Homo sapiens: one gene and its partners. The protein of the gene in region 3 interacts with the protein of the main gene of each other region in a pairwise test. Each region holds a gene or a part of one and is shown on either strand. Other genes may lie near its edges.

Region 1 (3,749 bases), on a different chromosome or scaffold from region 3:
CAACTTAGTCTGGGTATGGCTATGGCTGACAGAAGTATCATGCTGTGTCACAGCTGATTATTAGATCTGCATTTTTTGCCCTTTAGCTTGTCAAAATAATGTCTAAAAAACCAGATTGATCACAAAAGATGCATCATAATGCCACATAAAGATGTCACTCGGCGCCTTATAGTATTTAGGACCATAGAGGACACCTGGTGCAGCCTCCTCATTTTGCAGCTGAGCAAGATCTTTGAAGGACAAGGACCTGCCCAAGGCCATCTAGAAACACTGAAGTTGAGACTCATACCCGAGCATCTTAGCTTTTGCCCACCCCACGCTGTTTCTCAGTCTTAACCAGCAAGCTTTCCTTGTTATTTTGGTTTGTCTTACGTCTAGGTTTGATTTGGCAGCACATTTCAACATCTGGTGAAGGCATGGGAATAAAACAGTGTAGGTGGATGGAGCACCTAAGAGCAGAATGTTTGGTGTTCTCTCAGGGTACACTGGGCAAGGCCTGCTGGGCCGTCCTTCCTCGCCATGCTGCCTGCGTTTATTCAGTTAAGAAAGTGGCACATTTTGTATCTTTGAGAATGCAACTATTTTAGTTAGGAGAGTGATGTTCCGTCTATGGAAGACTTTGCCTCTCTCCATCTTGGGCTTGGAGAAGGTGTCCCATGTCCCAGCAGCATGGCTGTGTACAGTCATTGATTCTTTTGTTTACTTCTCCATGCCGTACATTTTGTTCCTGTCCCTTGATCACAAAGAAATAAATGAACGTTCCTGAGGCACTGACATGGGCCGGGTGAGGTGGGAGCCTCCTTCTAGATATTATTATCCTATTTAAATGCATTATGTTCCCACTCATTTCACGATTGCCCAGTATTCAGAGAAGTTGCATTACACAACTGAAGCTCCATAATAAATGCGTGGAGGTGAGATTCAAACCCACGTCTTTCCCATTCTACTTTTTGTGCCTTTCTGTTTTAATTTGCTTCTTGGTATTCCTGTGTATTATTAATAGTCTGAAGCTTGGAAATAGATGCAATAGTCATTAGAGTGAAGAAAATACAGTGCCGTGCTCTCTGAAGGATAACAAGGACATTTTTGTTGTAATTACTATTTTGATTTTTCTTTTAAGAATGTTGCCGAGGAAGGAAAACAGAGGGAAAAACCAGCAAAGCTCACTGTGTCTAACTTTTGCCACATGCATGGACCTAATTTCTTACTTGCCAAGCACTAGAGCCTTTATTTTTGAGACTCTGTGAGGGTGGCTGAGTTCTGTGTGTTTGCTGGGGTTGGAAAAATCTAGTGTGATGGGGGTCAGTGGCCCCATGACACGCCAAGGCAGAGTAAGCCACAGAGCTCAGTCTGCCATAGGTGTGGCTTCCTTCCTTCCTCACATCTGTGTCAACACCCGGCAGGAGGTGCCTGATTCCAGTGGGGATGAAGCAGCCTCTGCCCATCCCTCCATCACCCATCAAGAGCTCTGGACACACATGAGGTTGAACCCCCAGATGGTGGCTGCCAGGGGAGTGTGTCCACCTCTCACTTAGGCCAGGTGCGTGGCATCTCACTGCGGCAGGCATCCCATGGGCGAGGTCGGTGCTCTCCTGATGTCTTTGATATTTTTCTTTATCTGGCCTAGTCTGAGACCAGTACTTTCCCCTGCCTGTGACCCCTGACTTCATTTGCAAAGTTTTCTCATGCACTTTCTGAAATTTTCATGACAGAGAGCCCTGGAGGAATTTGGGGCAACGATGGAGGTGGAAGAAGGTTTAAAGCTGGGAATCTTTATGCATTTTCTCTGTTTTCTCCTTCTCTTTATTTTTTTTCTTGACCTATACTTCACACTGGTCTCTGTCTTCTCCATGCTTAGAAAGCAGAGGAGGCTTGAGCTTCCAGCAAAGACCTTGCGACATGTTACTGGATACAGGCTGGTGCATAGAAGGGGTGGGTGGGGAGGGCTGACAGGAGGGTGTCCCTCCCCTGAGCATCACCGGCTCTGTTCTTGGCCAGTTGCTCTTTGTCCCCACATTTCAGGTTCTCTTCCTGCATTCAAGCATGGGCAGGGCCAGGGCTGCTGTTTCAGGACTGCATCTAGCCCTGAAGTTTTCTCTGGGCCTCCACAGGGGACCTTCCTACTCTGAACTCCACATGCATTCTCCAGGCCACACTGCACACTCACCCTACTCTCCAGTCATTTCCAACTACTTAGAATTCAGTCAGTGTTGAGAGTCACCAGTCTTATGTAGACTGGAGCCTGGCACATAGTAGGTGCTTTTTGCATGTTTACTGAGTGAATGAATGAACAGAAAATGAAATGCACTTTGCCTAAAAGCTGATCTGATCTGATCTGAGTGCCCAGGCATTTCACCCTTCTTCCAAAGCTCTCCTTTTGTTCCTGTGGCCCAGGGAATGCTCAGTTCCAGGCTTGGCAGAGGAGGGGTCTCTCTAGGCAGTGTGAAACAGACTGTGAAGCCCCCATGAGAAATAGTCCACCCACTGGGAAGGCCCCTCCGCTCCCAGGAAACTCCAGCCAGAGCACTCCAGCGTGGGGGCTAGGACTCCTCTTTTCCAAAGGAGAGTAGACAGTGGGAGGAATTCACCTCAGAATGATTTCCTGGAGCAGTTAGGAAAGTAGCATCTCTGAAGTCACAGAGGCTTCAGCTCCACTGGGCCGTGAGAATCCCTTACAGAATTCTGACCCCGACCAAGCAGAAAAGGGCACTGCCGCCTTTAAAACAGTTGACTGCAGAACAAAACAAAATGCTAAAATAAGACTAGAGTAGTTTGAAAATATTGGAAAGTTGAGAAAAAACTCCCCCAAATTCCATGATACTAGCATCATCATAGTATATAGCACATTACATATATAGTGTATTATATGGTATATTATGTATACATACTATGTATACTATATGTTATATGGTGTATGTACATAGTAAAAATTATTTTTCACATATCTATTGCTTTGGTATGTTTTCTTTCATGTTTTTGTTTATTTGGTAGATAGGCTTTTTTCCTGTTTTGTTTTACAACATGTTTATATCTGACACTAACATTGTATTATAAGCTTTTTTTTCCCATACTATTGCGTAGTCTTTATAGCCACACTTAAAAAATGAATCATTTATTTCTAAAAACAGTCAGGTCCATTTTATTTTGGCTTCTGGATCCTGCCCCTCCCCGGGCACTCTCCCACTGCAGAACTATGTTAGGCTCAGTTCCCCAGAGAGCCCTCAGGTTTTCCACACCACAGGCCCCATGCAAGCTTCTTGTGAACCCTGGGCAGTCCCTTCTGGGTCCTCAGAGCTCAGTTTAGATGCCACCATTGCCTGTTTGCAACACTGGCACATGTGCAGGTCCCTGTGTTCTGTACAGCTGAACTCAGGACTGCCTCATCACCACTGTCACTACCGCGCCTCGCACAGGGCCCGCATGCTGCATGCTCTCAGTGAATGCTTGCGGAATGAACGGAAGAGGGAATCAATGAACAAATGACCTGGTGGTCATTTTCTGTGTTTCCTCCTGGGGTTTTTCCTTTGGTGTATGCATTTTGTGTGTGTGTGTGCATAGAATAGGTTACACCAAATCTATAATCTTTTTGTCCTTTTGCCTCCTCAGCATTCGTTCATAAGCATAGCGAGCATCACTGTCCGAGGCTGCACAGTGCTTCGTCTTGCGTATGCATCCTGCTTTGTTCACCATGTCTCTGGAGTTACGCATTTACTTGCTTGTTGCTTTCACCACTATAAACCATGCCTCAT
Region 2 (3,749 bases), on a different chromosome or scaffold from region 3:
TGGAATATCCTGCCTGATCATAACGTGTTTGTTTACCTGGAGCTTTGAGTCATGCTAGACAGTTAATGCTGATGATTTATAGTGGGGGCTTTGGGCCACCTGTATCAGTCTTGACCTCTGGAGGGGCTGGTGACTAATTTCGGTCATGCAGACAGTCGGCCATGCCTACATGCTCCCAAAACCACACTGGATGTCAGGCTTGGGGGAGCTCCCTGGGCAGCAATGTTCTGTGCAGGTTTCCTCACATCACTGCTGGGAGAATTAAACATCATTTGGTTCCATTTCCCAGCTGCTGAAAAACTGTAATGTTGGGAAGAAATTAATAATTCAGCTTAAATCCAAAGGAAGAATGTTGATTGTGTAGATTTTGTAGAATTTTTTTTAAAATGTTGAGGGAAGAAGGGAAGACCAACTATGTAGAAAAGGGAGCCTTTATTATGAACACACAACTCTTTAAAACAAGTGAAGTAATACCCATGTAGAATAAAAGCAAAGAAAAAAGAAACAATTCAGATAATCATCACATAAGAACACTTATATGTTTTATTTTATCTTATTTTATTTATTTTATTTTATTTTGAGACAGAGTCTCCTTGTGTCACCCAGGCTGGAGGGCCATGGTGCGATCTTGGCTCACTGCAACCTCCGCCTCCTGGGTTCAAACGATTCTCGCGCCTCAGCCACCCAAGTATCTGGGATTACAGGCGTGGTGCCACCCAGTTTTTTTTGTAATTTTGGTAGAGACGGGGTTTCACCATGTTGGCCAGGGTGGTCTCGAACTCCTGGCCTCCAGTGATCTGCCCGTCTCAGCCTCCCAAGGTGCTGAGATTACAGGCATGAGCCACTGCACCCAGCCACTTACATGAAACATCTGACTGCATTGCTGAATTCAAAATATCTGAATATGTTATACAGAAAAATGTTTTGGAAATCTAATGAAAATTAATAACGAAATACAATGTTCTACTTACAGTCATTGTTGACTTATCTTAATAATTTGTTTGTTTTGTAATGTGACAAAATAGATCTATATTGTTCATCTTGTCAAAAATATTTATGTGCAGAACTGTATTTTAAAACAAGCAAGTACAAAAGGAAATAAATTAAAGTACACGAATATTTTATTACCTCTCAAAATAGCCTGACTTGAAAAGACCATCACTCCATGGCCAATGGATCTACTTGATCCTGAAATAACCGAGAGTGGGGTGTATCTGTTACTATCAGCAGGTCAACCTTACAGCAACAAGAAGAAAGGCCTTTGACAACCTGATGGTCACTCCTGGGATTTCTATGGCTAACTTAAGTGGCAAGAACTAGCAGGAAACTAGTTGACTTTTTTTGAAGAAAGAAATGACAAAAGTTTCTCAATCAGTACCTTTTAGTCATCATTTCTTGGAAACAACTATACATCATACAGTTGATGCCTTTAAAGACACGACTTTGGGTATGGGCTCAGTGGCTCATGCCTGTAATCCCAGCACTTTGGGAGGCTGAGGCAGGTGGATCACTTTGATGTCAGGACTTCGAGACCAGCCTGGCCAACATGACGAAACCCCGTCTCTACTAAAAATACAAAAATTAGCCGAGAATGGTGGCACGCACCTGTAATCCCAGCTCCTTGGGAGGCTGAGGTGGGAGAATCGCTTGAACCCGAGAGGTGGAGGTTGCAGTGAGCCAAGATCTTGCCACTGCACTCCAGCCTGGGCGACAGAGAGAGACTCCGTCTCCAAAACAAACAAACAAGCAAGCAAAAAACATAAAAGCACAATCCATTGATAAAAAGGGTGCAGCTGGACATGGTGGAAACACACAGGGCATGGGAGGGAGCCTGGGCTCCACCTGCAAGGCGAAGGCCATTCTAGCCAAAGGGGCAGGGGTGGCTGGAAGGAGCTCGGGGGCGAGGTCCTAGGCCCCGTCCACTTGGCTTCCATCCCGAGTCCTTGCATCCCTCCCCAGGAGGAGGCGCTGAAAACTTCTGGGGACAGAGGCCCCAAAGAACCACCACCCACCCCAGTCCACAGCAAATATGGGTGGTCCCTTACGGAAAGAGGGAAGGCGTGTCAGCAGGGGTCGTGGCCCCCAAGGTCCTTCACCCGCATGCGCATGCGCACTTAGCTGACCAATCAGAGAGGAGCGTGGATAGCCAGGGCAGCTGCTCTCGCGAGAACTGAGGACCCATTTTTCTAAGAGAGCGTCGTGGTGCCAGTGCCTGCAGGTTCTGTGAGGAAGCGGCATCAGGGGTCCCTCAGGTGAAGCGCTCGCGGTGGGGAGGCAGGAAGTCGAGCATGCGGCCCTCTCGCAACCAGGGTGTGAAGCGCAGGTGAAGCGCTCGCGGTAGGGAGGCAGGAAGTCGAGCATGCTGCCCTCTCGCAACCAGGGTGTGAAGCGCTGAGCGGCCGGCTGACCTGCACACGGGCAGCCCGAGACCCCTGGCCCCTTCTTGGCTTTGGAGTCCACCATGCACGTGCTAAGAGGCCCCAGGTTTTCAAAGCAGGAAATGGCCCTGGCATCGTTGCCTGGGGCCTGGGTCAGGGCGAGGCCCTGAGGGTGGGCTGGGATGGGCCAGGGCAGGGAGGGAGCTGGAGACACCTGAGTGATCCCCAGGGCCCAGGAGTGTCCCCGGGACTTGTGCATGTGTGCAGTGGGTAGGGGTGGGGCAGGGGAGGGGGGCTTGGGGGAATGGAGGGGGTGGAGAGGGGAGCAAGGGAGGGGTGGTGGCAGAGGGTGGAGGGTCGGGGAAGTGGCAGACAGGCAGGGGCCGGGTGTGGGGCCAGGGATGGGGGCAGGGGAGGGGAGGGGTGTGGGGTTCGTGGGGTGAGGGGATGGGGGAAGGGGAGGAGGAGGGGCGGAGTGTGTGGGGAGGCGACAAGCAGGGGTGTTGTGGGGGACAGTTCGAGTGGGTCCCTCCAGCCCGGCCGCCCGTCAGGACAGGACACTTGGGGTCACGAGGGGTCACCTGGGCATCCAGGCAGGCAAGTGGCAGTGCAGCCCCTGACATTCCCCCAGAGATGGCTGGGGAGGTCCTGTGACACCCGTGGTCCTCCGGGCCACGCAGGTCTCTGGGGCACACAGGGGCAGGGCTGAACTCTGTCCCAGGGACACCGCAAGGATCCTGCAGGGGCCATTCAGGTGTGCGAGGCAGCTGTGAGTTCTGCAGCCAGCCCCAGGGACGGGCTGGACGGGCCACGAAGGATAGGAGGGGACACTGGCATCTTCTCCGACCCCTCCTGCTCCCACAGGATACACGGGGTGGGCCAGCCCCACCCTTTCTTGAATCCGAGATCCCGTTGGCTCTCCTTTCACATATCCTGTTTCCTTAGCTTACTTAGTTTGACTTTGCACTCAACCAGGTTCAGGGATCGCCTCTAACTTCCCAGGACAGCCAACCATGGAGCCCGTGGGCAGGAAGCGCAGCAGGAAGGCTGCCAAAGCTCAGTTGGAAGCTCAAGTTACGGCCGCCCAGGGGGCCACGAAAGAAGGTGCACGCCCAAGGAGATGGTCTGTTTGCTCTCTGCGCGGGGGGCACATGGGCAGCCCGAGACCCCTGGCCCCTTTGTGGCTTTGGAGTCCACCATGCACGTGCTAAGAGGCCCCAGGTTTTCAAAGCAGGAAATGGCCCTGGCATCGTTGCCTGGGGCCTGGGTCAGGGCGAGGCCCTGAGGGTGGGCTGGGATGGGCCAGGGCAGGGAGGGAGCTGGAGACACCTGAGTGATCCCCAGGGCCCGGGATTGTCCCGGGGACTTGTG
Region 3 (3,749 bases):
ACCTTTTCCTTGTCTCAAAACGTTCATGTACGAGGTCACGTTTACCAGCTGTACAGCGTTGCACCATATGGAGGGGTGTAGGCTTTATAGCCAGCCCCTTTCTGGACAGTGCTGAAAGTGCCATATGATGGACATTGTGTGTGAGCCCCGAGGGCATCTCCAGTGACTCCCCTGGACTGGCATCCTGGAGGCAGAGGCACTGATCAGAGAGAGTGAACATCATCTTGGCTTCCCACAGGGGCTGTTTCTGAGGCACTGGCTTGGGAGATGGGGTTGCCCCCCCAGAGAGAACAGAATGGGGGTGGCCTGGGTGAGGGCCAGAGCCCTTAGGGCAGAAGGCCACGTGTGGTCATTCTGCTGCGGGTCTGAGTGGATGCATGGTGCCTGCAGCCCTCTCCAGGTGGCGGCCTCTCAGCTGAACTCCTTGGTGCCGGTGTTTGTGTTTGGACGGGATAAAAATATGCCTCATTGCTCATGAGGAAAGAATGCTAGCAACTTTGGTTTTGTGGATCTTACACAGTGACGGCTTCTAAGCCATTGCTGTGGTCACCAGTAGGGAGTTGGGGCTGAGTGCCCCACCGTGCAGGTGGGGATCTGAGGGTGCAGAGTGGATGCAGCTGGAGATGCCTGGATGCTGGGGTCTGGGGGAGGGACTTGCTAAGGTCCCACAGCATTATTGCCTGGATGGTGCTCCTGCCCTAGGCCAGGCTGCCTCAGGCTTCTGCCCACATGCATTAAGTGCTTAACGTATTCCTGGCAAGGCAGCCGGTCTTCCGAGTGGATAAGCTGCAGCCCTGCCCTCAGGGCTCACAGTGGCTGTAACATGCAGGAAGACTCAGAGAGGGAAGGACCAGACAGCAGGTCCTTCCACCGGGAGATCTTTTCTGATCTTCATTGTCCCTGTGACCAACCATGACCAGGAATTGTTGTGCTTGTTTTGAAATAACAAGCCCTTTGATCCAAACCAGACTTGGCCAACCCCCAGGGAACCTGAAAATTAATCCTCCTGTATTCATCCATTCTTACTAACCAGAGATTTTACTTTAAACAGTTTTTTTTTAACTGCAGTGTGACATACATGGTACATAGGCCAGCTAGAATCTGTTTTCCTGAAATTCCTTTTATGAAGTGTTTTCCAACTGAACATGCCTTTGTTTAGCACCTGGGAGTAATGGCTTAGGGTTTTTCTTTTCCTTTTTCTTTTTTCTTTTTTTTGAGACGGAGTCTCGCTTTGTCACCCAGGCTGGAGTGCAGTGGCGCGATCTCGGCTCACTGCAAGCTCCATCTCCTGGGTTCACACCATTCTCCTGCCTCAGCCTCCCCAGTAGTTGGGACTATCGGCGCCCGCCACCACGCCTGGCTAATTTTTTTGTATTTTTAATAGAGACGGGGTTTCACTGTGTTAGCCAGGATGGTCTTGATCTCCTGACCTTGTGATCTGCCCGCCTCGGCCTCCCAAAGTGCTGGGATTACAGGCGTGAGCCACCGCGCCTGGCCGGCTTAGTTTTTTTTTAATGCCCAATAGTTTGCTTTCTCTTCTGCCACACACGTAATCCCCATAGCACCCCTATGTGGGAGGTGCTATCCCCATTTTACATATGGGGAAACAGACACAGTGAGGTCATGTGGCCACTAGTAAGGGTAACCGACGCCCCACACCATGTTGCTTCCAGCTGTAACCTCTAGCAGAGGGAGGGCTCTGATGGAGAGGTGATCGCCTGAGTGCTGTGTGTTTACCTGAGTAGGTGAGGAAGACAGGGACTCGGGACAGACATAGCTTGGAAGCTCCCACAAAGGAGGTATCGCTGGAGCTCTTGACTTGAAGGGTGCTTAGGGTCTAGGCTGGGGGAGGGGGGTAAGAAGGCATTCCGGGAAGAGGGCCCTGCAGAAACAGAAGTGTGGAGGTCAGCATTTGTATGCTGATGTTGAAGGGTAGCCAGTGTTTTGCAGTGAATGGGCCCCGGGAGAGAGGGTGCAGTGGCATGGCGGTCTGATTTCAAAGTCGTCTTTTTCAGAAATGAGCTTGCAGAAGCATTAGAATTGGGCAGGTCTGGATTTGAATTTCAGGTCTGGTACCTGGAGCTGTTTGACCTTGAGCAGGTCCCTCCCCTCCCTGCACCTGGGTTCCTGTCTGTGAAGTGGGGTGAGGTTGAAGGATAAAACATTTCCCCATCTATAACTCTGGGATGACAATAGGATCTACCTTCCAGGTCCATGCGAGGAACTCACGACAATAGGACCTACCTTCCAGGGCCATACGAGAAACTCATGAGAAAAGACAAGTACAGAGAACAGAGCCGTTGGTCTTGATGGCAGAGATGCCCTGGCGTAGGTCAGCCCTCAGTAAAGGTGCCCTCTCTCTCTGTCTGAGAAAGTGACACCTGACTTCGGGGCAGTGGGAACCATGGGAGAGAAGGTAGACAAGGCCACGTGTCATTTGAAGACCTGACTTTTCACCATCTCAGGTGGTCCGGTGGCCTGCAGGACCGTGGTTCTGTTTGCCCACAGCGTGTGGGTTCTACGTGCGATCCTGTATTTCTCTGCCACAGCTGACTAAGGGGACACTTAGGTCTGCACGTGCAGTTAAATGGCTGCTTTTGTGGAAGGTGCCAGTTCCCGGGAGCTGGGAACTTGGAAACAGGATGGAGCAGGCTCCCAAGCTTGACCATGCATGGTTTGCACCTGGGGGATGCACCCGGGGGTGCTTGACCATGCATGGTTTGCACCTGGGGGATGCACGGGGGTGGGGTGGGGGGGGGGGGTGTGCTTGACCATGCATGGTTTGCACCTGGGGGATGTTTTACACTAAGGGCTCAGTCCCTCTGAGGGAGGAACGTGTGGATTGAAATCTGCAGAGTTCTTGAGCGACACCAGTCTGATCTTTAGGACTCATTTGCAGCGGGAATGGAGCAGAAATTGTTGTGTGTGGAGCCTGGGGCCACTCCTGACTCTTCCAGTCACAGCTGCCCCCAAAAGTGACCTCTGGGCACCTACTCAGACCTGGCTGCTCAGTGCCAAGCGCTGGGTGTTCAGAGGTGGCCAGGGGACTCCCTCGTGCTGCCCATGGTGTCTGGTCTCACTGGTCCTCACAGTTGCCCCGTCCCCATTTTCAGATGAGGAGGCTGAGGTGCAGAGCGGGATGTGGGCTGCTCAGGACCACACAGCTGGTGGGCACAGAGCCAGGAGTACAGCGCTGCGGCAGCTTGGGGCTGGGAGCGAGACTCTCTGTTACCAGCCTCTCCCTGCTCTGTGCCTCAGAGGATGGCTGTGGCCCTGAGCTTGGGAGGGTCATTTGGGAATCTGAGGAAAAGTTTCCACAGCCTCACACAGCAGCAGGTTCAAGGTCCAGCAGTGCCAGGGGTTTGCATCCCACCCCTAACGCCGCTCATCCAGGGCCCATCCGGGTCCGGGGCTCGGGATCCTGCAGCGCTTTCAGCTCTGTGTCTGTGGCCGGTGGTTGTCCTTCATTACAGGGATGGTGGTGTTTTTCCATGTTGCTAAGCAGCATGTGAGGGCCTCTGTTGAATAAAATAAAGCCCTTGCTCCGGCGTGACACGGGTCACGGGATCTCTGCTCACTCTAGTCTCTTCTGATGCCCCCACCGCACTGTTTGCCTTAGTTTGCTTTTTACTCTCTGTGTTGGTTTCTGGGGCATCAGTCCTCTGACTTCGGTGCTGTGGCTTGGGCCTGGGGTGGGGGCTGTGGAGCGGCAGATCTGGGTATGAATCCCAGCTCCACCCATTTGGCTC

The links.
Region 1: the proteins of WFS1 (region 3) and ZNF488 interact in binary tests that used the Homo sapiens proteins (3 or more experiments, as listed by UniProt).
Region 2: the proteins of WFS1 (region 3) and FAM9A interact in binary tests that used the Homo sapiens proteins (3 or more experiments, as listed by UniProt).

What each region holds. Positions count from the first base shown.
Region 1 is NC_000010.11:47,370,615-47,374,363, reverse strand, and holds part of ZNF488 (zinc finger protein 488), read left to right. Parts: intron 1-3,749. UniProt on the Homo sapiens protein: Transcriptional repressor. Plays a role in oligodendrocyte differentiation, together with OLIG2. Mediates Notch signaling-activated formation of oligodendrocyte precursors.
Region 2 is NC_000023.11:8,799,814-8,803,562, reverse strand, and holds the start of FAM9A (protein FAM9A), read left to right. Parts: upstream 1-2,179; 5' UTR 2,180-2,252; exon of another isoform or gene 2,253-2,323; intron 2,324-3,353; 5' UTR 3,354-3,391; coding exon 3,392-3,482; intron 3,483-3,749.
Region 3 is NC_000004.12:6,272,850-6,276,598, forward strand, and holds part of WFS1 (wolframin), read left to right. Parts: intron 1-3,749. UniProt on the Homo sapiens protein: Participates in the regulation of cellular Ca(2+) homeostasis, at least partly, by modulating the filling state of the endoplasmic reticulum Ca(2+) store.